3 separate regions of the Homo sapiens genome follow, and all the other regions are linked to region 1. Evidence: fine-mapped expression QTL. A gene starts in region 1. Each other region holds a variant in brackets. All regions are shown on one strand. Distances are between the middles of the regions. Region 1 holds the start of MAVS (mitochondrial antiviral signaling protein). Region 2 holds the start of RNF24 (ring finger protein 24). Region 3 overlaps MAVS (mitochondrial antiviral signaling protein).

The links.
Region 2: its variant is fine-mapped to the expression of MAVS in whole blood (INTERVAL, PIP 0.99).
Region 3: its variant is fine-mapped to the expression of MAVS in whole blood (TOPMed, PIP above 0.99).

What each region holds. Positions count from the first base shown.
Region 1 is chr20:3,843,125-3,851,169 of GRCh38, reverse strand. MAVS (mitochondrial antiviral signaling protein) reads right to left here and starts at 4,336. Exons shown (of 7, transcript NM_020746.5): 1 at 4,267-4,336. RefSeq lists enhancers at 1-326, 6,281-6,420, 7,409-7,553, silencers at 4,060-4,439, 4,870-4,919 and a cis regulatory region at 7,476-7,486.
Region 2 is chr20:4,010,853-4,018,897 of GRCh38, reverse strand. RNF24 (ring finger protein 24) reads left to right here and starts at 3,340. Exons shown (of 6, transcript NM_001134337.3): 1 at 3,340-3,461. RefSeq lists enhancers at 1,613-2,214, 2,418-3,350 and a silencer at 3,234-3,833. The variant T/C (reference allele first, on the strand shown) is at 3,827.
Region 3 is chr20:3,872,394-3,880,438 of GRCh38, reverse strand. It overlaps MAVS (mitochondrial antiviral signaling protein), which reads right to left. Exons shown (of 7, transcript NM_020746.5): 7 at 4,321-8,045. Among named protein-coding and RNA genes, the nearest start is that of PANK2-AS1, 13 kb to the left of the region's middle. The variant G/T (reference allele first, on the strand shown) is at 4,949.

The sequences.
Region 1 (8,045 bases):
TTTTAGTAGAGACGGGGTTTTATATGTTTTAATGTTGGCCAGGCCGGTCCTGAACTCCTGACCCCAGGTGATCTGCCTGCCTTGGTCTCCCAAGTTGCTAGGATTACAGGCGCCAGCCAACGCGCCTGGCCAATTTTTGTATTTTTTAGTAGAGACAGGGTTTCACCATGTTGGCCAGGCTGGTCTCGAACTCTTGACCTCAAGTGATCCTCTTGCCTTGGCCTGCACAGTGCTGAGCCACTGTGGCCGGCCTCTAAGCTTAAATTTTTTTTTTTTTTTTTTTTGAGACGGAGTTTCGCTCTGTCACCAAAGCTGGAGTGCTGTGGTGCAATCTCGGCTCACTGCAAGCTCCACCTCCTGGGTTCACACCATTCTCCTGCCTCAGCCTCCCGAGTAGCTGGGACCACAGGCGCCCGCCACCACACCCGGCTAATTTTTTGTATTTTTAGTAGAGATAGGGTTTCACCGTGTTAGCCAGGATGGTCTCAATCTCCTGAACTCGTGATCCGCCTGCCTCGGCCTCCCAAAGTGCTGGGATTACAGGCGTGAGCCACTGCGCCTGGCCTTTTTTTTTTTTTTTGAAATGGAGTTCACTCTTTTTGCCCAGGCTGGAGTACAATGGCGCGATCTCGGCTCACTGCAACCTCTGCCTCCTGGGTTCAAGCGATTCTCCTGCCTCAGCCTCCCAAGTAGCTGGGATTACAGGCATGAGCCACCACGCCCCGCTAATTTTGTATTTTTAGTAGAGACAGGGTTTCACCATGTTCCGGTCTCGAACTCCCGACCTCAGGTGATCCGCTCACCTCGGCCTCCCAAAGTGCTGAGATTTACAGGCGTGAGCCACCGCGCCCAGCAGCTTAAAAAAATTTCTTTTTTTTTTTTTTTTTTTTTTTTTGAGACAGTCTCGCTCCTTCACCCAGGCTGGAGTGCAGTGGTGCAATCTCGGCTCACTGCAAGCTCCGCCTCCCGGGTTCACACCATTCTCCTGCCTCAGCCTCCCAAGTAGCTGGGACTACAGGCGCCTGCTACCACGCTCGGCTAATTTTTTGTATTTTTAGTAGAGACAGGTTTCACCGTGTTAGCCAGGATGGTCTCGATCTCCTGACCTCGTGATCTGCCCGCCTCGGCCTCCCAAAGTGCTGGGATTACAGGCATGAGCCACCGCGCCCAGCCAGCTTAAAAATTTTTAAGTGCCTCAAATATAAGCAATTGCTGCCAGTTGTTTATGTAGGAGTTACCACAATTTGCAGTTATAGATGTATTTGCTCGTTACTTTTCTGCCGCCCCCATCAGGGAGTGCTGCAGGGAATAAAAGAGACAAGGTCTATGCCACATCCAATTTATATTCTAATGGGGTGGGACAAATAACAGATCAGTAAATTAATACCCAAATAAGAGTTCCAGATAGCAATAAAGGCTCTAAAGAAAGTAAAGCAGGTAATGAGACAGAGCCCCTGGAGACAGGCATGCTACTTGAACTAGGGGGTCAAAGAAGCCTTTCTGAACTAGCGTGCAGAACACAGCTGAGCTGTTCTCAGGCTCTGAGAAGATTGGTGTTTTAGGCAGAGAGCATGGTAAATGCAAAAGTCCTAAAACAAGAATGAGCTTGGCATGTTTGAAGAATAGAAAGCAGGTCAGTGTGGTCTAGGTCAAGAAAGCTAGGGATGGCTGGCTGCGTGACTCACGCCTATAATCCCAGCACTTTGGGAGGCCTAGGCGGGTGGATCACCTGAGCTCAGGAGGTTGAGACCAGCCTCGCCAACATGGTGAAACCCTTTCTCTACTAAAAATACAAAAATTAGCATGGTGGTGGGCGCCTGTAATCCCAGCTACTCGGGAGGCTGAGGCAGGAGAATCGCTTGAACCCAGGAGGCAGAGGTTGCAGTGAGCTGAAATCATCCCATTGCACTCCAGCCTGGGTGACAAGATCAAAACTCCATCATAGGAAAAAAAAAAAAAAAAGCAAGCAAGCTAGGGAAAGGGGCAGAGATTGTCAAGGTCAAGGAGGTGGCAGGGGCCACTCATGTAGAGTGCTGTAGGAAAGGACTCTGGGTTTTAGTTGGAGTGAAACAGGGAACCACTGGAAGGTTCCGGCAGGGAAAGAAGAGGATCTGATTTACATTAAAGACTTCTCTGGTGGTTGTGAGGACTTTGGAGGGGCCAGGATGAAAACTGGGAGACCAGTAAGGAGGCCACAGCCCAGGAGACAGGATGACTATGGTCAGGATGGGAACCACAGAGATGGCAGGAGGCAGCCAGATTCCTGGTGTTTTGAGGGTGTAGGAGATAAGGGAGAGAAAAGAAGCATGACTCCTTGGGCACTGGGTGGATGGAAGGTGCCCTTTTACCAGGCCAGAGAAGCCAGGGGAGGAGCAGTGGCTCAGAAGGGACTCCAGAACTCAGTTCGGAACAAGTGAAGTTTGAGATGCTATTGGATTCCAAGTGGGTTGTCAGGGAGGGAAGGAGGCAGGAGAGGACCAAGTGGGCATCAGGCAGGCATGAGACCTCTCTCAGGAGGCAGTGCTGTAGAGCAGACAGCACCTAAAAGCTGTTGGGCCACCAGACCTTCCTCACAGGGGAAGCAGTCCTGTCACTGGCCTCAGAGCCTCACATGCATGAGTTGCTTTGCCAGCCAGCAGGCCCTGCTACATTCCTCGTGGGGCAAGTACTAATGACAGGTCAGGAGAATCAGGAAGGTGAGGCGGGGGTCCTCTGAGCCTTCAAGAAATTAGCAAAGAACAACTCTATGGGAGTTAATAGATCCCTTTCTCGGCCGGGCGCGGTGGCTCACGCCTGGAATCCCAGCACTTTGGGAGGCCGAGGCAGGCAGATCACTTGAGGTCAGGAGTTTGAGACCAGCCTGGCCAACATGGTGAAACCCCGTCTCTACTAAAAATGCAAAAATTAGCCAGGCATGGTGGCACACACCTGTAGTCCCAGCTACTCAGGAGGCTGAGGCAGGAGAATCTCTAGACCCAGGAGGCAGAGGTTGCAGTGAGCCAAGATTGGACCACTGCGCTCCAGCCTGGGCAAGAGAGTGAGACTCCATTTCAAAAAAAAAAAGACCCCTTTCTCCTTCCTTTCTCATGGCATCAGCCAGGTACCAGAAGGCAGTCAGATGAGGCACTCTTCTGCATTCCAGCTTCAGCCACAGATGGAGGGGAAGGGATGATGTGGCCCAAACAAAAGGAAAGGAAGCCCACATTTGTTCACATTTATGGAGGGCCCATTGTAGACAGGCACATCCTAAGGTTCTTTCAGTTAATCCTTCCCCAATCCCGTGACAGGGAAAGTGTTGCCAAGGTGCACAGCTGGCCAGAGGCTAGCACAGGATTTGAACCCAAAACCTGCTGCCTCACTGCAACTGGTCATACACCTTGCAGGGCACAGAGACCCCTGCAGCGAGACCCACACAGCCACCTGCCTTCAAGCCCAAAGAGGACCCAAGGTCACTTGGCGGGAGGGAGGCTGAGGGTGCACTTAGGTGGAAGCAACATTTAGTCCAGACATTAACCCTGCTTTCACATGGCTGCCACAGGTCCCAGGTCGCTGGCTGTCCTCCTAGATATTTTTGAGGCTTCACGGCTTCCATACAGAGAATCCCTTTTTCGTGTTTTTGGTTTGTTTCATGTTTTCTTGGCACTTCCTTCCCAACTGAGAAGGAAGTAGGTGACAGAGTGTTCCCAATACAGCAAAGTTTCCGACCTGACTGTCCAGAGGCTCTGAGTGCATCCCGGAAATAAACACCCACCCTTCCCAAAGGGACAGGCCTCACAGCCTTGGATCGGATTCCTGGGCGCGACCCAGGTCCGCGGAGGGCGGGGAGGCCGTTTTGAGCTGGTGTCGCCGCCGAGAACTGTCCAGACCCAGCGGAGGGCGGCAGCACTCGACCTCTAGGCGCACCCGGTCGAGGCTCGGCCCCACCTTAGCGTCACCCTGGGCCCGCGGGCGGCAGGAGGAGGTCAGCGGCCGCTGCCCGTCCCCTTCTGGCCCTACCTTTCCCCCAGCCTGAGCAGACGCCCAGCGCCACCTACCCCCTTTTCCCCGGATGCTGGATGCGGCGCCTGGAGCCCTCAGTGTTCCCGAAACTCTTGCGACAGGGCCCGCTCTTCCGGATCCCCGCGCGTCCTGTCCCCTCCTGGGCCCCCCGCGCACCCCAGACCCAGGGCGTCCCGGCGGACTCCGTCCTGCCGCTGCAGCCACCTTCCCTAAAGGCGTCCGTGCGTGCTGAGCCGAAAGGACCCAACGCCCGGGAAGCGATCTTACCTCGGGTACCCCCGGCCCTGAGACCTGGCGACCGCCGCCCGGGGCCCAGGACCCTTCCCGCAGCGAGGAGGCGGGGCGGGCAGAGCGCGCGGCCATTGGCCATGTGGAGGGGCGGGGCTACTCGGCCGCGCGTGGTTGGCTGGCGACGCAGGCGGCTGCGCAGCGGGGACGGTCACTGGGCCTTGGTTTGCGGGTCGGGAAGCGCTAGACTGGGCTCGGAGAACCGACCTGATTTTTTGCTGGGGGCGCGCAGTCTCGAGCAACTTCCAGGGGAAGTCCGGTGTCCGGCCAGAAACCAGGCAGGTGGCCGGCCTCGGAGTCATCGGGGGGCTGAGAATTCCATCCCCACGCTTCCCAAGTGAAGCAGCCCCTCCTCCCCCTGGGAACTTTGAGGGGTGAGGGTCTTCGTGTCGTTCTCTCCGGCACCCCCATGGCCTGGCATACAGTTAGTGCCCAATAAACGTTGGGTGCCGCTGAAGTCACAGGGGCAAGGATGCCTATCCTGGAGACGTGCACGCTGGGCCTGTGGGAGTGGGAGCGGGCGGGGGACTGCTGGGTAGGTAGGCGCAAGGCAGGGACGCCAAGGTTGGCTGGCGGGCAGGCTGGGTATGGGTTGGGTGCTGCGTGGGAGAGGCCTCTTACGCCCAAGGGCCTGGGACAGGTACCTCCCGCAGTTCCTGCCATCTGCCTCGCCCTTCCCCTTCTGGGGCAGAGGCCAGCACTTACTGAGCACCTACGATCTTCCAGGCACAGGGTCTTCTATTCTTTTTTTTTTTTTTTTTTTTTGAGACAGAGTCATGCTCTGTCGCCCAGGCTGGAGTACAATGGCGCGATCTCGGCTCACTGCAACCTCCACCTCCTGGGTTCAAGCAATTCTCCTGCCTCAGCCTCCCAAGTAGCTGAGATTACAGGCACATGCCACTGCGCCCGGCTAATTTTTGTATTTTTAGTAGAGACGGAGTTTCACCATGTTGGCCAGGCTGGTCTCAAACTCCTGACCTCAGGTGATCCTCCCACCTCGGCCTCCCAAAGTGCTGGGATTACAGGCGTGAGCCACTACGCCCAGCCTCAAGTGAGGTTTTATTACTGTACTTTATATCCCTGTGAATATTTCACAACCTTCAGCATTTACAAAGTATGCTTAATCACACCTGAACTGTAATAAAACCAGCTCTGCCTAGTTTAGCCAAGAGGGCATAAATGTTGATTAGTTCAAGAATCAATCCTGCCTGCTCCCCACCGGAGCAGCTCTAGCAGCTTCATATCTAATTCTTTCAGGAAGAACATTGAAAGTGTAGGAGCGGGCTTCCAAGTGCAGCTATCACTCCTGTCTTTGCTGGACCTCAAAGAGCATTCAAACAATCCCACTGCCTGACTAGGTGGTTCCCTGCCACCTATCAACAGCTTTTATAAAGATTTAGACAAAGAAGAACACAACAACATGCTTATGGTATTCCTATCAAAAGCTCATGATCTGAAACTAATCATAGGGAAACAGTAAGCAAACCCAAAACGAGAGACATTTGACAGCTGTCCTATCCAATACAATGGCTACTAGCCACATGTAGCTATTTTAATTAAAATTAAATAATACTTAGAAGCCAGTTCCTGAGACCCACGAGCCACATTTCTCTTTTTTTTTTTTTTTTTTTTTTTTGAAACAGAATCTCACTCTTTCACCCAGGCTGGAGTGCAGTGGCCCAATCTCGGCTCACTGCAACCTCCGCCTCCCGGGTTCAAGTGATTCTCCTGCCTCAGCCTCACGAGTAGCTGGGACTACAGGCGCATGTCACCACGCCCGGCCAATTTTTGTATTTTTAGTAGAGACGAGGTTTCACCATATGGGCCAGGCAGGTCTCAAACTCCTGACCTCAAGTGATCCACCCACCTTGGCCTCCCAAAGTGCTGGGATTACAGGCGTGAGCCACTGCACCTGGCCCATGAGCCACATTTCAAATGCTATTTTCATGTAGCTAATGGCTTCATACTCGGTGACACAGAGCATTTCTATTTTTTTTGTTTGTTTTGTTTTGAGACAGAGTTTCACTCTTGTTGTTGAGGTTGGAGTACAATGGCGTGATCTCGGCTCACCACAACCTCTGCCTCCCAGGTTCAAGCGATTCTCCTGCCTCAGCCTCCCGAGTAGCTGGGATTATAGGCATGCACCACCATGCCCAGCTAATTTTGCATTTTTAGTAGACACGGGGTTTCTCCACCTTGGCCAGGTTGGTCTCAAACTCCCGACCTCAGGTGATCTGCCTGCCTCAGCCTCCCAAAGTTCTGGGATTACAGGTGTGAGCCACAGCGTCAGGCCCAAACAGAGCATTTCTATCATCACTGAAAGTTCTATTGGATAGCACTGCTCTGCAGAATAACTCTTCAAAAATTTCAAGGTCAGGAAAAACAAGGAGACTGAGAGACTGCTCCAGAGAAAAGGACACCAAAGTGACATGACAACTGAATGCAATATGGGAACCTGGGTTGGATCCTGAAACAGAAAAAGGACTTCAGGTGAAATCCAAATAAGGCTTTTGGATCAGTTAACAATAATCTAGCTGGGCATGGTGGCTCACGCCTCTAATTCCAGCACTTTGGGACGCCGAGGTGGGTGGATCACCTGAGGTCAGGAGTTTGAAACCAGCCTGGACAACATGGTGAAACCCTGTCTCTACTAAAAATACAAAAATCAGCCAGGCATGGTGGTGGGCACCTGCAATCCCAGCTACTCAGGAGGCTGAGGTAGGAGAATCGCTTGAACCCGGGAGGCAGAGGCGGCAGTGAGCCGAGATCGCACCATTGCACTCCAGCTTGGGCAACAACAGTGAAACTCTGTCTCAAATTAACAACAACAACAACAATCTGTCAGTGTTAGGATCATTGTACTGGGTTATGTAAGATGTAAACATTTGCATTATTTTTGCAACTATGTTGTAAATCTGAAATTATTTCAAAAATATAAAGTAAAATAAATCATCTTTTGACCCTATCTGGCTATTTATATTATCTTTTATTTCTTATTGCATCCCACCCTATTTCATGGGTGTAATTCATTGATCACTGTCCATTTATTAGGAGAAGAGCAAGTCCAGAGAGTGATCTATGCTCTAGGCTGCCCCCAGTGAGGGCCTTGGAGCTGCCCCCTGCCCAGTAAAGTTCAGCACAGACAGGCCCATCTCCAGGCCTCCGAGGGAGGCTGTGACCCACCCATGATGACTCAGCACCCACCAGCTCACGTCACCCCCTGGAGAGCAGAGGTCAGGCGCAAAGACAGTGCCAGAGGGCTCCAAACTCGGTTATGTTCTCCGGTCTGAGCCCTTGAGGGAACTATGACTAAAAAACATAATCCCCTCCTTTATGACTTCATTTTGAATAGTATTTTAAACAGTTATTCTTTATGTTTTATTTATTTATTTTTAAAATAAAACAGACACAGTCTTGCTACATTGCTCTGGTTGGTCTTGAACTCCTGGGCTCAAGCAATCCTTCCATCTAAGCCTCCGAAGTAGCTAGGACCACAGGCACACTCCACTGCACTTAAACAGATATTCTTTATACTATTTTAATTTTTTCATTCTTTCAACTTAATTTACCAAAAATATATACTGTTTACAGCTAATGTGGGGAAAACAGAAATATTTGATGATGAAAACCAAAATCCATATTCATAATGCCACCATCTACAAAAATTAGCCAGTCATGGTGGCACACATCTGTAATCCCAGCTACTCAGGAGACTAAGGCAGGAGAATTGCCTGAACCCAGGAAACGGAGGTTACAGT
Region 2 (8,045 bases), 170 kb before region 1:
CATCACTTGCATTTTGCCTAGACCAGTGGGGGCTGGGAGTGGTGGGGGGATGAGTAGACTCATGTGCATCACTAAGCAAAGAGGATCAGGGACTAGCAGGTGAACCTCCAGCCGGAAGCACCAGGAGGACAAAAACTGTGATTTCTTCCTTAAGGGGAACACGGGACAACCCGCTACAGGGGACAGAAGAGCAGGATCCTGCCATATGTTGTAGAAACTGTGAGGCCAGATTCCACCTGTCCAGTCCCAAAGGAAAACTTTCTCCTTGACCCTAAAAACCAGTTGGGCCAGTTGATGACACAGCAAAATTTTAATAAGATGAGTCTCCCTGAAAACAGCAACTGGACACGGCCCCTCCTCCTTCCGTTCATTCTCTCATTCTCTTTCCCACTCACCCCTAATTTTTTCAAGAACAAAAGACATGAAATGAGCCACTCCATCCTCTACCCTACAGCCTGATTGGACTAGTGAATTACTAGCCAAGCTTTCTAAACAAACAAACAAAACAGGTTTCCAAACGCAGGGCAGAGGAAGGAAGCCAAAATAAGGAAGAAGAAAGAAAAGGAGCTCAGCCTTTCCTTCTCCTGTGGAGCCTCCCCAGCCCACCAGGGAACATCACCTCCACCAATAGCCACAGCAGACCCACTATGTGCCAGTCACATATTAGGTCCTGGGAGATACTGATCCTGCTGATGAAGGACTCACATGCTGGTGTGGTAAGAAAATATGCAAATGAGCAGGGACCTTGGAGGGTGCCTAGTGCTGAGAGGGAAGTGGGTACAGGGCACAGGTGGGGATTCTCAAGGAAAGTCTGTCAATAAGTGGGGGCAGAAAAAAATACTTTATCAAAAATGACTTTGTAAATACTTTACTTTTTTTTAGAGCAGTTTTAAGTTTGCCACAAAAGTGAGAGGAATGTGCAGAGTTCCCAACTAGCCCTTCCCCCCTACACATACATAGCCCCCCCATTATAAACATTCTCCCACGGGAGCATTTATTACTATTGTTGGACCTACATTGGCACATCATTATCACCCAAAATCCATGTTTACATTAGAGTTTGCTGCTGGTATTATTCATTCTATGGATTTAGACAAATGTGTCATGACAGGTATCCACCATTATGGTATCATACACAGAGTATTTTCACTGCCCTAAAAAGCATCTGTGGATTTTCAGAGAAAAGAGCAACTTTTGCATGCTAGGTAAGTATTGCTTTCCTAGTAGGGGAACAGCAGGAAACAGCAGTCACCTTGGTGACTACTGAGGTGAAACACCATGGTGCTGTTCTGTAAATGGCTGGAAAATAAGGCTCAAGGAGCCAGATGGGGCAGGGAAAAAGAAAAAGACAGAAACACAGGCAGATTTGAATACCATGAGAATCGATTTGCATGAGAATGGATTGAGACTTCTGCAACAGCCCAGGGGAGAGATGAGGGGGCTGATTTAGAACAGTGAGAGGTTTGAGCAAAGCAAAGTTGAAAAGACCCTCCAGGTAACTGCTATGATTGACAGCAAGGAGGGCAGTGTTCCCCCAGCACAGCCCTGGCACAGGCAGCTCTAGAGGAAGCCTGGGTCTCCCACTCCCTTCCTTTTGCCACAGTCTCCCTAGCACATGCCTCCACCCTTCTCTCACTTTGGGGGACTGTGACCATTGGGTGGCAGGTGACTTCTTGAGAAATTCACTAATGTTTCCCTCTTTACTTCCTCCCTGCCTTGGTGGTTAATGGTTTGCCAAAGCAGAAGGAACATGCCTCTAGGCGCTTGCCATGATGACTTTTGCTTCCCAAAGTTAAGCTACTGAGCTGTTTATGGTTTATGTGATGGGGCCTGAGAGATTAGGAGAAGGAAGGAGAACTTCTGGGGGACACATGGAGACTGAGGAAGAGGGGGCAATCATTTTTGCAAGCTCTGAGCTGCAGCGCACACACAGTCAGCTGTGGAGCTTCACAGCCATTCCCTCTGCAGGCTCCTAGCCTCTCCAGAAACTTCCGTACCCCAGGAGTGGCAGACACAAGGCGATGGGAACAAGAGAGTATCTGCAGAATACACTGCCTGCTAAAGACAAGAGAGGACTCCCCAGATCCTTGCCTTGGTATTGCAGGAAGAGCTCAGCCTCCCAAAATCGGAGGTCAATTTATTGCCTGCCCTGTAGAATGGGAGCCGGAGGTTGAGGAGTGGATGTAAATAAAGGAATGCACTGTTTCTTGCACACACCTCTCTCCACTATCTGGGCAGAGTCTAGGTCTCATCCATCACCAAGGTTCTAGCACTCAGCTGAGAGGCTGCAGCAGGAGGGGCAGATGGAGGAGGGTGCGGTGCATACCATCTCCCCATCAAACCAATGGGCACCACGTGACCATTCTTGTGTCTCTGGGGACTGTCAATCTGCATGCTAGGAAAGGGGTGGCATTCCAATCTTTCATTTTTTTGTGTGTGAGACGGAGTCTTGCTCTGTCACCCAGGCTGGAGTGCAATGGTGCGATCTTGGCTCACTGCAACCTCCGCTCCCCGGGTTCAAGAGATTTTCCTGCCTTAGCCTCCCGAGTAGCTGGGATTACAGGCATGAGCCACCACACCCAGCTAATTTTGTATTTTTAGTAGAGACAGAGTTTCTCTATGTTGGTCAGGCTGGTCTGGAACTCCTGACCTCAGGTGATCCACCCGCCTTGGCCTCCCAAAGTGTTGGGATTACAGGCGTGAGCCACTGCGCCCGGCCCCATGCTTTCACTTTTAAAAATGCTTGTAGGGCACGCAAAAATACTAAACGGTCGATGGAGAAGGTCTGTCTGGAGTAGTTGTTTTTTTTTTTTTTTTTTGAGACAGAGTCTCGCTCTGTCGCCCAGGCTGGTGTGCAGTGGCACGATCTCGGCTCACTGCAAGCTCCGCCTCCCAGGTTCAGGCGATTCTCCTGCCTCAGCCTCCCAAGTAGCTGGGACTACAGGCGCCCGCCACCACACCCGGCTAATTTAATTTTTTGTATTTTTAGTAGAGACGGGGTTTCATCGCGTTAGCCAAGATGGTCTCGATCTCCTGACCTCGTGATCTGCCCGCCTCAGCCTCCCAAAGTGCTGGGATTACAGGCGTGAGCCACCTCGCCCGGCCTGTCTGGCGTAGTTCTAACCAGGAACAGAGCCAGCGGCCAGGGCCGCACCAGGCCTGGCCAGGGAGCGCCGCGCCTGCGCACTGCAGACTCTGAAGCCGCCGAGCCCTCCGCCGAGGTGGGTGGGGAAACTGCCCGGGCATCCGGGTCCCTCACCCCGCCCCCGCTGCATGAATGAGAGGCGCGGCGCCCGCCCCTCCCCCGGCGGGCCCGCCCCTCGCGAGGGGCCGCCGGGCGCAGTCAGCCGCCGCCACCTCCGCCGCGCTCTGTCCGGACGGACGCTCGCCGCCCGCAGCCTGCCGCCCGCCGCAGGGCGCTGACGGTCCCGCACGTCTGCCGCTGCCACCGGCGCGCCCGAGTAAGTGAGCGAGCGAGGGCGGGAGCGCCGCGGCCGCCGCCCCCGGGCTGGGGTTTGGGGGACCGAGCCGCTCCGGGTTCGGGATGCTGAGGAGACCGCGGGCCCGCGCCAGCCTCCCACACACACACACTCTCCCGGCGCCTCGGCCGGCCGGGCGCGGTGTGCAGGGGTGAGGCGGTGTCTCCAGGCTGAGGAGGGACGCGGAGGAGGGTCCGGCGCGGCCCCGGGACTGGAGGGTGAGTCCCTCACAAAGGGCGGAGCGGGGCTGTCACCTGGAGATCACGGAGGGAAGGTGCGTGGGCCCCCGCACGTCCTGCTCGCCCAAGCCCTGGCATCGGGTCCCCGGGCGTGGGAGGCGGCTGGGA[T/C]GAGCTGGGAGGCTAGGAGGAGGATGGCGAGGACGCTGCCCCCGCGTTGGCGGTGGGCGCGCGCCTTGGGGGGTGCGGCGTGGCAGTGTTTTCCTGGTCCCCGTCCACTCCTCCCCTTTCTTTGTGGCGCTTGTCTCGTGCCCCGTTGTCACAGTGTGCATGGCAGTGGTCGGGGTGGAGACCTCTTCCCTCGGCTTACTCATTAATGAAAGTCACCATCTGTGGGCAGGGGGCGTGTGTGGTTCCACAGGCCGGAGAATTAAGGACCCTCCTTTGTTTCTGGAGACCTAATGATGTGTGTGTGTGTGTGTGTGTGTGTGTGTGTGTGTGTGCGCATTCAAGTGAAAGGGACATCTATGAAATGAGAGAATCAGAGATTGTCAAAAAGGGTATGAGGAAAAGGGGAGGGGATATAACTTCATCACACCTTTACCCAATTCTTTACCTGATGTTATTTCAAACAGTTTTTTCTCACTGTAAAACCAGTGGGTTTTATTCATTGGAAATGTGCATCTAAATTCTCATATATCTGTGTTTCTAGAATACTTTGCCTTTTTGGGCTTAGTTAATGGTAAGATTCTCATGTCTGTCTACATAGGAATACTCCACCGTACAGGACACTGCTTTCTGGGTTTAGTTCATTGATAATTTGTCCGAATGCTCATAAACATGTCTATAGGAATACTCCAATATATCTAGGACACAGTTTTCTCCGCTCCTGAATACAGGCAGATTTTGTTTCTTTCTGCCTCCCTGTGTTAATGAGAAGGTAGTCCAGCAGGTTCTCTCTACCTCCTTGCTTTTTTTTCCCCTTAATGCTTTGGCAGAGGGTTTTATTGCATATTACCCTGGCATGCGCCCTTGCTTTGATGTGAATTTTCCTGTGTTCTGTTGTCTGGTTGTACAGCCCAGCTCAATGGCTCCTCTTACAGGACTACTGGAAAACAGAACACCTTTTTTCATTGTCCTCATCTCCAGAGAGAGAAGGAAGCGCTGTAGGTTCCCACAAACGTTGACTCTGTCAGACTGCCTGCCTGACTTTGTTGTGTTGGTAAAGTTATGAAGAGTTGCAGTTGTTGTAGACCAATTAAAAAGAGGCTATTGGGATAACACCAGCTCTTCCTTGCTATTTTGGTTTTAAAACAAATGATATGAATTTTGCAAGATAGTTGTTAACTCTGGTTGCATGATGATTTTCAGTTTCTTTTTACCCATATACTTTTACAGGGTGTTGGGAAATTAGCCACTCATTTACAAGAAACACACCTCCAAGGTATTTTTATTATGGGTCGGGTGCGGTGGCTCACACCTGTAATCCCAGCACTTTGGGGGGCCGAGGTGGGTGGATCACCAGAGGTCAGAAGTTTGAGACCAGCCTGGCCAACATGGTGAAACCCTGTCTCTACTAAAAAAATACAAAAAATTAGCCGGGCATGGTGGCGAGCGCCTGTAATTCCAGCTACTCGGGAGGCTGAGGCAGGAGAATCGCTTGAACTCCCGGAGGCGGAGGTTGCAGTGAGCCTAGATCGCGCCATTGCATTCCAGCCTGGGCAACAAGAGCGAAACTCCGTCTGAAAAAAAAGCTATTTTTATTATGATCTTTGGATTCAAAATAGCGGTTTTAAAAAATTAAGAGGCGCTTATATTGGATGATATGAATAATTGTATGGGTTCTGTTTTCTTTAAGATTCTCTGTAATATTTTTAAAAATCACATGTATTTTAATTCCTAGTAGTTTTCAGTGGAAAATGAAATGTAAACTAAGCAGTCTTCCACAGCATCTGTTTATGTATATTCCCTCTGTTTAAAACATTTGCTTTTAATTTGAAGGGGAAATTTTCCATGGTCAGTTCAGGATACATTATTCTTAGTAAAATTCTTACCACGTTCAAATTCTTTTTTGTAAGAGTAAAAAAAAATTAATGAAAGTTGATTTTTCAATTGGGGATGTTTTGGTTTTAATGCATGATTTAAATAAAATCTTAATATCAATTAATTTAATTCAGATAAGTTAATTTAAAACAAGGCTTTTATGAAGGAAAAATGAAGCAGAAAAAAAAAAACAAGAGCTTTACTAACTAAAGTCACTAATGTTGAAGTAACCCAGTACATTTATAAACTGCCTGTCTTGACTGCATAAGACATTTTTTAGGAGTCTCCTTAAAACAAACCGTAAGGGGAAGTCTTAGATAAACAGAGTAGCATAACCGGAATTATCACTGAAATAAGCTTGCACAGTATCGCAATTTCATGGAAGTTTAATTTTGCAAGAGTGACTTAGCTATTTTTAATATCAACAAAGGAACCTAAACACAGCCTGGCCTTGTTATTCAGCATTCTGTTAATCAAAGTATTTGCCAACCCATAGTTTAGCATTCTGTAGTATGATGATTGAAGAAAAAATCTAAACTAACTTTTAGATCCTTAAAATAGATAAAATAATGTTAAGTGCTGTTTTAATAGTAAATATTTATTCATTAGAATAGTAATATTATGTTAGTGATGGTAAGAGCATAGATGGTAACACTTTGTTAACTAGGATCTATTATCCTCCCAGTAATGTCTCATAATAAAAAGTAATTTATTTTTCCATTGAGCATTCTCTATCAATAATTGCTTTTTTGTTTTTTGGGTGTTTTGTTGTTTTTTTTTTTTGAGATGGAGTCTCACCCTGTCCCCTAGGCTGGAGTGCAGTGGCGTGATCTCGGCTGACTGCAGCCTCCGTCTCCCAGGTTCAAGTGATTCTCATGCCTCAGCTTCCCGAATAGCTGGGAATACAGGCACTGGCCACCACGCCTGGCTAATTTTTTTTTGTATTTTTAGTAGAGACGGAGTTTTGCCATGTTGGCCAGACTGGTCTTGAGCTCCTGGCCTCAAGCCATCTGCCTGCCTTAGCCTCCCAAAGTGCTGTGATTATAGGTGTGAGCCACCGCGCCCGGCCAATAATTGTTTATTGTTTTAAATGGGAGTTTATTCTAAGATCAGTAATAATGCTATTACAATGTGTTAGCTTGAATCATATGAAATTGCCATGTTGAGACTGAGAAAAAATCAAAATCAGCAGTCTTATATATTATATAGTTAAACCACTCTCAACTCTTACTGGTTTCTTTTGGTATTTACCTTTATACTTATTTCATTTTTAATGTTTATACTGCTATTTCTTAGCTCTTCACTTTTGGATATTCTCTGTGGACTTCTATTTTGGAAGTTGAAGACTTAACTGTCTCACATAACTATCCTTCCATTTCCCACTCATACTTGACAGTTAGGTCGGTATTCAGGATTTATATGACTGACAGTGTACCTGTTATTCACAGTTGAGCCACGTAGGGTGCTATTACTGTGTTTTCTTCTTGAACAACTTTTGTTGCTCCTGAATTAAATAATTGCCTCTTTTGTTTGTTTGGTTTTCATTTGCTGAGTTTTCTTTGTATCAGTCACTAATTCATTCAAACTCTATGACAAAACTGATTATCTTTGAATATTCTCAGGTAGTCACTCACTTTCATATCTTTTCCCCAGGAGATGGTCCTGCTGGAGCCCCCTCTCTCCTACTCCAGTCTGGAATTGTTTGCTCCCTGGACTACTGCATAGCCATCATCCTGGGACTTCCCTTTGTCATCATCTTGGGAATTCCCTTTGCCTTCCTCCTGTGTTAGGTCTTCTATTTCCTGGACCCTGTGTCTTCCTTATTCTTGAGTAGCTTCCTGAGAAAGGGTACATACAAAATCTGAAATTCCTTCCTGAATTCAGAAGTTACATGTCTGGAAATGCCTTCATTTTACCTTCACTCTTGAATGGTAGTTTAGCTTGGTGTTAAAATCTGGATTGAAAATTAATGTGACTGTTTTGAAGACATTGTTCCATTAGCTTCCAGTGTCACTATTGAGAAGTCCAATGTCATTTTAATCCTCATTCCCTTTTTCTTCCCACTCTGAAAGATTTTAGGATCTTCAGTTTATCCCTGGTGTTCCTGACATTTCATGATGTACCTTGGAATAGATATTTTTCTTTACTTTTGCTTGTGGGGTAGATTGTATTTTCCAAAAAGGCTGTATATGTATGTGTGTGCATACTCCCCCCATCTCACCCAATATGCTATTCTTTGTGCCTCCATCAAGCAGTGGGGTCTTTGTTTCCTCCTCTTGAACCTGTGCAGACAGGAATTCTCCCCCGAACGTTTTGGATCTTGAGCATTGTGTTTTAAGAGCACAGC
Region 3 (8,045 bases), 29 kb before region 1:
TTTCTATCCATTCCCTAGGCTGAATACATTCCTGTCTGTGTTCCATATGTCTCCCCCCGCAACATTAAAATAAGTTTATTAAGTCTCCCGCCCCATATTTTAATCTAGCTTACATTGTCTTCTGTTACTTGGAACCAAGAGTCTTTTTTTTTTTTTTTGAGACGGAGTCTTGCTCTTTCACCCAAACTGGAGTGCAGTGGCACAATCTCGGCTCAATACAAGCTCCGCCTCCTGGGTTCATGCCATTCTCCTGCCTCAGCCTCCTGAGTAGCTGGGACTACAGGCACCCGCCACCATGCCCAGCTAATTTTTGTTTGTTTGTTTGTTTTTAGTAGAGACAGGGTTTCACCGTGTTAGCCAGGATGGTCTCGATCTCCTGACCTTGTGATCCACCCGCCTCGGCCTCCCAAAGTGCTGAGATTACAGGCGTGAGCCACCGTGCCCAGCTGGAACCAAGAGTCTTAATTAAACAATCATGATGGAGACCAAGCCCACATTTTTCAGGTCACCTAATCCTGGCCTCTCCATGATCCAGTAACCTGAGTTACAGCTTTCCTACCATAAGGACTTAGAGCTAATTTCTTAAAGCCTGTAGTGGAGGCTGAGGCGAGAGGATTGATTGACACAAGGAGTTTGAGTCCAGCCTAGGCAACATACCAAGACCCAGTCTCTTAAGTAAATTTTTTAAAAAATCAATTTAGTTTCCAAATGAGATCAACATATTAACATATTATATTTGATTGCTTTGCCTTTTTTTTTTTTTTTTGAGGTGGAGTTTCACTCTTGTTGCTCAGGCCGAAGTACAATGGCACAATCTCAGCTCACCACAACTTCCGCCTCCCAGGTTCAAGCGATTCTTCTGCCTCAGCCTCCTGAGTAGCTGAGATTACAGGCATGCACCACCACACCTGGCTAATTTTGTATTTTTATTACAGATGGGTTTCTCCATGTTGGCCAGGCTGATCTCGAACTCCCGACCTCAGGTGATCCGCCTGCCTCAGCCTCCCAAAGTGCTGGGATTACAGGCATGAGCCACCGCACCTGGCCCAGGTTTGATTTCTTTAAAAGAATTCTTCACAGGTGCTATTTACCTTTTTAAACATTATTTTTCTATTTTTGTTTTGTTTTTGAGACGGGGTCTCACCCTGTCACCCAAGCAAGAGTGCAGTGGTGCAGTCACAGCTTACTGCAGCCTCAAACCCCTGGGTTCAAGCAATTCTCCCACTTCAGCCTCCCAAGTACCTGGAGGTACAGGTGTGCACCACCACGCCCAGCTAATTTTTTTTTTTTTTTTTTTTTTAGAGACAAGGGTCTCACTATGTTGCCCAGGCTGGTCTCAAACTCCTGGCCTCAAGCGATCCTCCCACCTTGGCCTCCCAAAGTGGTTCCCACTTATAAGTGAAAACATTACAGGTGTGAGCCACCATGTCTCACTATTTACTTTTTATTCATCTCATCAAGAGAAGAGAAATTCATAACATTAACTACTTACGTTAGGGGCTACAGCCCCTACCGTAATTTTCTAATCAGGTAGTTTCTTCTATGCTTGGTTAACTGGAATTTGTGTGTGTGTGTGTGTGTGTGTGTGTGTGTGTGTGTGTGACAGAGTCTCACTCTGTCACCCAGGCTGGAGTGCAGTGACACGACCTCAGCTCACCGCAACTTCCTCCTCCCAGGTTCAAGCGATTCTCCTGCCCCGGCTTCCCGAGTAGCTGGGATTACGGCTGTGCACCACGACACCCAGCTACTTTTCTTTTGTATTTTTAGTAGAGATGGGGTTTCAACATGTTGGCCAGTCTAGTCTCGAAATCCTGACCTCAAGTGATCCACCTGCCTGGCCTCCCAAAGTGCTGGGATTATAGGTGTGAGCCACCGCACCCAGCCTAACTGGAATATTTCTATAAAGAATCTTCCCTCATCAACTCTTTGTTATCCTGAAGTACCTCAACCTCAGCCTCCAGAGGAGCTGGAACTACTCAAATAGAAAAGGCAGGATCAATTCTTTCCCTTTACTGACCAGTTTTCAGAATGAGTTGGTTTCCTGGGGCATCCTCTAGAGGTCAACAATGAATTCTTTTTAGTATTATCATGAACTGGTGGCTTTTTTTTTTTTTTTTTGAGACGGTCTCACTCTGTTGCCCAGGCTGGAGTGCAGTGGTGCGATCTCGGCTCACTGCAACCTCCGCCTTCTGGGTTCAAGCGATTCTCCTGCCTCAGCCTCCTGAGTAACTGGGACTACAGGCAAGTGCCACCACGCCCAGCTAATTTTTTCTATTTTAGCAGAGAGGAGGTTTCACCATGTTGCCCAGGGTGGTCTCGAACTCCTGAGCTCATAGAATCCACCCACTTTGGCTTCTCAAAGTGCTGGGATTACAGGCGTGCGCCACCATGCCTGGTGTTTTTTTTTTTTTTTTTTTTTTTTTTGAGACGGAGTCTCACACTGTTGCCGGGGCTGGTGTGCACTGGCGTGATCTCGGCTCGCCACAACCTCCACCTCCCGGGTTCAAGCGATTCTCCTTCCTCAGCCCCCTGAGTAGCTGGGACTACAGGCGCGTGCCACCACGTCTAGCTTATTTTTGTTTTGTTTTGTTTTGTTTTTTTGAGGCAGAGTCTCTGTCGCCCAGGCTGGAGTGCAGTGACGCTATGTCGGCTCACTGCAAGCTCCGCCTCCCAGGTTCACGCCATTCTCCTGCCTCAGCCTCCCGAGTAGCTGGGACTACAGGCTACCTGCCACTATGCCTGGCTAATTTTTTTTTTTTTTTTTTTTTTTTTTTTAGTAGAGTCGGGGTTTCACCGTGTTAGCCAGGATGGTCTCAATCTCCTGACCTGGTGATCCGCCCACCTCAGCCTCCTAAAGTGCTGGGATTACAGGCATGAGCCACCGCACCCGGACTGTATTTTTTTTTTTAGTAGAGACGGGGTTTCACTATGTTGGCCAGGCTGGTCTCAAACTCCTGACCTCGTGATCCACCTGCCTTGGCCTCCCAAAGCACTGGGATTACAGGCGTGAGCCACCGCGCCTGGCCAACTCATGGATTTTAAAAGCCTATTTGATGAGTTTCAGTCCACTGGAGTCAGGTCTTTTTTTTTTTTTTTTTGGAAGTGCTGTGATCGTGACTCACTGCAACCTCTGCCTCCCAGGTTCAAGCGATTCTCCTGCCTCAGCCTCCCGAGTAGCTGGGACTACAGGCGCGTACCACCATGGCCAGCTAATTTTTTTGTATTTTTAGTAGAGACGGGGTTTCCCCATGTTGGCCAGGATGGTGTCGATCTCCTGACATAATCCACCTGCCCCGGCCTCCCAAAGTGCTGGGATTACAGGCATGAGCCACCACCCAGCCCAAAGATTCTATATTATATATACAGTTTTCCACTTTTTTTTTCCTCTTAGCAAAACATCATGGAGTTCACTCCATAGCAGTATAGAGATACTCATTTCTATTCACAGCTGCATAGCACTCCAATGTAGATATACCTTGGTTTATTGCCAATGTTCTGTAGATGGACATTGTCTGAGTTATTTCCAGTCTTTTGCTATTTACACAGTGGGCTATAATGACTAGCCTTGGACATATATCTTTATTTTTGCCAATGTTATCTTTGGCTTAGACTACTAGAAATGGAATTGCTGGGTCAAAAAACACATGCATATGTCATTTTGTAGGACAGAATCAAATTCCCCTCCTGAAGAGGCAGCTGCTATAATGGTGCTTCCAGTGGTTCCTACTTCTGGGTAAATTGCCCCTTGACTGCAATTTACAGAAGTGATGGGAGTGGATGCAGAGGCTCCTGCCTGTAATCCTAGCACTTTGGGAGGCTGAGCCAGGAGGATCACTTGAGCCCAGCAGTCTGAGACTAACATAGGCAACACAGTGAGACCGCATCTCTACTAAAAATCATGAAAGTTAGCCAGGCATGGTAGCGTGTGCCTCTGGTCCCAGCAACTCAGGAGGCTGAGGTGGGAGGATTGCTTGAGCCCAGGAGTTTGAGGCTGCAGTGAGACATTCTACTCCACTCTACTCCAACCTGGGCGATAGAGCATGCCCTTGTCTTAAAAAAAAAAAAAAAAAAAAAAAACTGCTGGGATGTCACTTTCAAGATTAAGTACCAAAGGACTGTGACTTCTGTTTTGCTCTCATACATTCTCTGTCTGAGAGCTGGGAGCTTGTCTTTAAGTAGAAACCCACCCATCCCCAGGGAGAAGGCAGGAGGGAAAAGGAGGAGAGGTCACAGACAAGCCCCCTGACTCTGTTGATCTTCACTGCAGTAGCTTCTCATTACAAGCAGGCATCTGGCCATTGTAGACCATTATAACTGTAGTTCTAGAAGTAATAATAGCAGATTTATTGTACAGAAGTGTCCACGGGCTCACAATTCTAAGGACATCATCATGACAGCAAGTAGGAAAAAAAATTAAAGTAATTCTTTCACCAATTACCAGTTTATCTCTTCTCCAATTCCTTTGGATACGCCTCCTGCAAGAAGCCGATTTCCAGCTGTATGTGATAATGAAAGGGTTTTTCTTTCTTATGTTAAATACAAGCGAAGTGATTAACTGGAAGATAGCGTCTGATTGCGAGGAAATCAGTGATTCAGATGGTGTGGGAATGGCACCTGGGGATGGGGGAGGCAGGACGGAGATGGAGGAAGCTGGTGCAGCCTAGCCTGCCTTGTGCCAAGGACACCCAAGGGCAGAGGGACTGAGCTCTGGGGGAGGACAGATTTGACATAACTGGTCCAGCCTCACAGTTTACAGGTCCTGGAGGGTGAGGAAAGTGGGAGCTGGCTGCGGATGCAGGACAAGAACCCAGGGCTTCCCTTCATTTTGCCTGCCCTGCCACTTCCTCCCGCCACTTCCACCCTTCCTACCCCTCCACCTCCCTTGTGCCTTTCACTGCCTTTTACAGCATTTACATTACACTTCAGTAAAAAGTTGTGGTTTTGGCTG[G/T]TTTTTTTTTTTTTTAAATAAAAACAGCACTGAAGAAGTAGAAGGAAGATATTCAGGGTTTTTATTTTTATTTTTTGAGTCTGGGTCTCGCTCTGTCACCCAGGCTGGAGTACAGTGGTGAGATCATAGCTTACTGTAGCCTCGACCTCCCGGGCTCAAAGATCCTCACACCTCAGCCTTCCAAGTAGTTGGGACTACAGGCATATATCATCATGCCTGGCTAAATTAACTATTTTATTTTAAGAGATGTGGTCTAGCTATGTTACCCAGGCTGGTCTCGAACTCCTGGCTTCTAGCAATCCTCCCACCTCAGTCTCCTGAATCACTGGGATTACAGGCTGGGGCCATCATGCCCAGCTCTAGGTTTTTAAAATGTAGGCAAGGAGGTCAGCATTTACACAAAAGCAGGGTTTGATCTTAGGAAGCTTAATAAAGAGAGGGGTCTAATCAAGGTTTCCTGTAGGATCTGGGCTTTAAGTTAGGCCTTAAAGAACGAAGAATGTTTGTGGGTGTAGTAAGCAATGACTTGGAGCAGAGCCCTCTAGCCATTGGGCTCACCCTCACAGGCAGGCGCCACTGACCCTAGGGGGGTGTAGGCAGCTGGAGGAAGTACTGTGTGTCCCCCATTCCAGCGATGGTGGCCCCTCTCAGAGTCAATACCCTTCCTTCCAAGAGACTGAACATACAACTGGACAATGGCCAGGCCACATATGACAATAGACTCTGGCCAGAAACCCATGACCAGCCTGGGAAGCCAAGGAAGCCAAACCACAGCCTCAGCAGCAATCGGACCCAGAACAGTCTGAACTTAGTGGCTGCCAGCTTCTTCCCAATCCCCAGCCACCACACCCCCTCTTCCAACTCCAGACCAACCAGAGAAAGCCAAATATACCCCCCCAACCAACCAAAGATGCCCCTCCAGTTAGTCCGCTCTGTCCCCATGCCAACAATCTCCAATCACAGCACACCCAGAGCCTTCCCTTTTTTTCCACTATAACATTTCACAGTCCCTGCCTGCCTTTGACCCCTGCCAAATACAAGCAATCATGGCTGACTCCTTTGCAAACTTTGACCAAATGGCCTCTCTGCTCTTGTTTAGGTGGTTTTTATTTCCACATCTCCAACAGGGAGTCTGGAAACAAACTGACAATACTCGTGAAATCAACACCCAGATGAGGTAGACCAGCACTCCAGGATGCCCCTCCCCAGTATCCCTCCCCTGTTAACTGTTCCCCTGGCTTCTAACACCATGGATCAGTTTTGCTTATTTCTGTACTTTTTGTAGGAAGAGAATCATACAATGAATTCTCTCTTGATGATGAGGACTCTGACCTCTTTTGCTTGACCTCATGTCTGTGAAATTTATCCATGTTGCTGTGCATAGCGATATTTTCATTCATATTCGTTGCTGTGCAGTAGTATTCGACCCTGTGACTTCACTGTAGCTTCAACTGTGGATGGACATTTGGGTTGGTGGATGGACATTTGGGTTGTTTCAGGTTTGGGGCTACAGTCAGCGTGTGGTTAGAAACATTCTTGCCAATGTCTCGGTGGACATAGCTTTCTGTGGTGTACATACCCAGGAGTGGAACTGCTGGATCAGTTTATACGTATGTTCGGCTTTTGGTAGATACTGCCAGTTTTCCAACAGGGTCACACCAGCTTGGTCCATTCAGGTTACAATGAAACACCTTAGCCTGGGTAATTTGTAAACAACAAAAAATTATTTCTCACAGTTCTAGAGGCTGGGAAGTCCAAGATCAAGGTGCCAGCAGATCCAGTGTCCAGGGCGGGCTCTCTGCTTCAGAGATACGGTGCCTTCTCACTGCATCCACACATGGTAGAAGGGACAGAAGGGCTCCCTCAAGCCTGTTTTATAAGGTGCTAACCCCATTCATGATCTCCACCCTCATGACCTAACCACCTCCCACAGGCCCCACATCTTTATTATTTTTTTGAGATGGAGTCTCGCTCTGTCACCCAGGCTGGAGTGCAGTGGCACGATCTCGGCTCACTGAAATCTCCACCTACTGGGTTCAAGCTATTCTCCTGTCTCAGCCTCCCGAGTGGCTGAAATTACAGATGTACGCCATCACACCTGGCTAATTTTTGTATTTTTAGTACAGATGGGGTTTCACCATGTTGGCCAGGCTGATCTCAGACTCCTGGCTTCAAGTGATCTGCCCCCTGCCAGCATCCCAAAGTGCTGGGATTACAGTCATGAGCCACCATACCCAGCCCCAAAGGCCCCACCTCTTAATGCCATTGCTTTGGGGGTTAGGATTCAACATATGAATTCAAAGGGTACACCTACATTCACAACACAGCACTGACTTAGATTCCCTGCAAAACCCATGAGAGTTTCATTTCCTCCATATTTTCATCAGCATTTCATCTTGTCAGATTTACTCTCTATAGGTTCTAAGTATTATTCCCCCTCTGCTGATTTACTTATTATAAACAGTACATAACTGATCAGATAAACACTTGTCCCTTTGCCACCCCTAATGCCTGCCCCCACTTCATATTCCAGGAACACTCCATTAAACCACCCCCTACTGTACTGGTGGGTGGTGGGAGGGGGCTCATCGGGTGGGGTCTTTGCCGTATTATTCTGTGTCACTGAGGCCTATCACAGTGCTCTGCACATGTAGGTGCAAATATCTGTTGTATGATTACATAAAAGAATGATGTGAAAGCCTATTTGTCTGTACCACAATCATGAACGTCCCCAACCACTTGAAGGCACTCATAGTGTCTTAATCATCTTAGGCCTTCGATCTGGCATAGGTAACTCCTTTAATAAACAATGTCTGCTAAACCAAATGGCTTCCTGAGGCCTGGCATTTTAGGCTGTGTCCCCTGCCCCACCTCGCCCAGCCTGGGGCATTGAGCCTGGCTGGGCACACACGTGATAGTTGTAATCATATTGTCATAACATCCCTGAGACTACATTAATTACATATTGAGTGTTATAGTACTATTATAGCAGGTGGCAGATGTTGGCACACTGGGCAGAGATGTGTTGGTGTGAAAAACCTCTATGTACTTTAAAGACAGGGTCTCCCTCTGTTGCCTAGGCTGAAGTGCAGTGGTG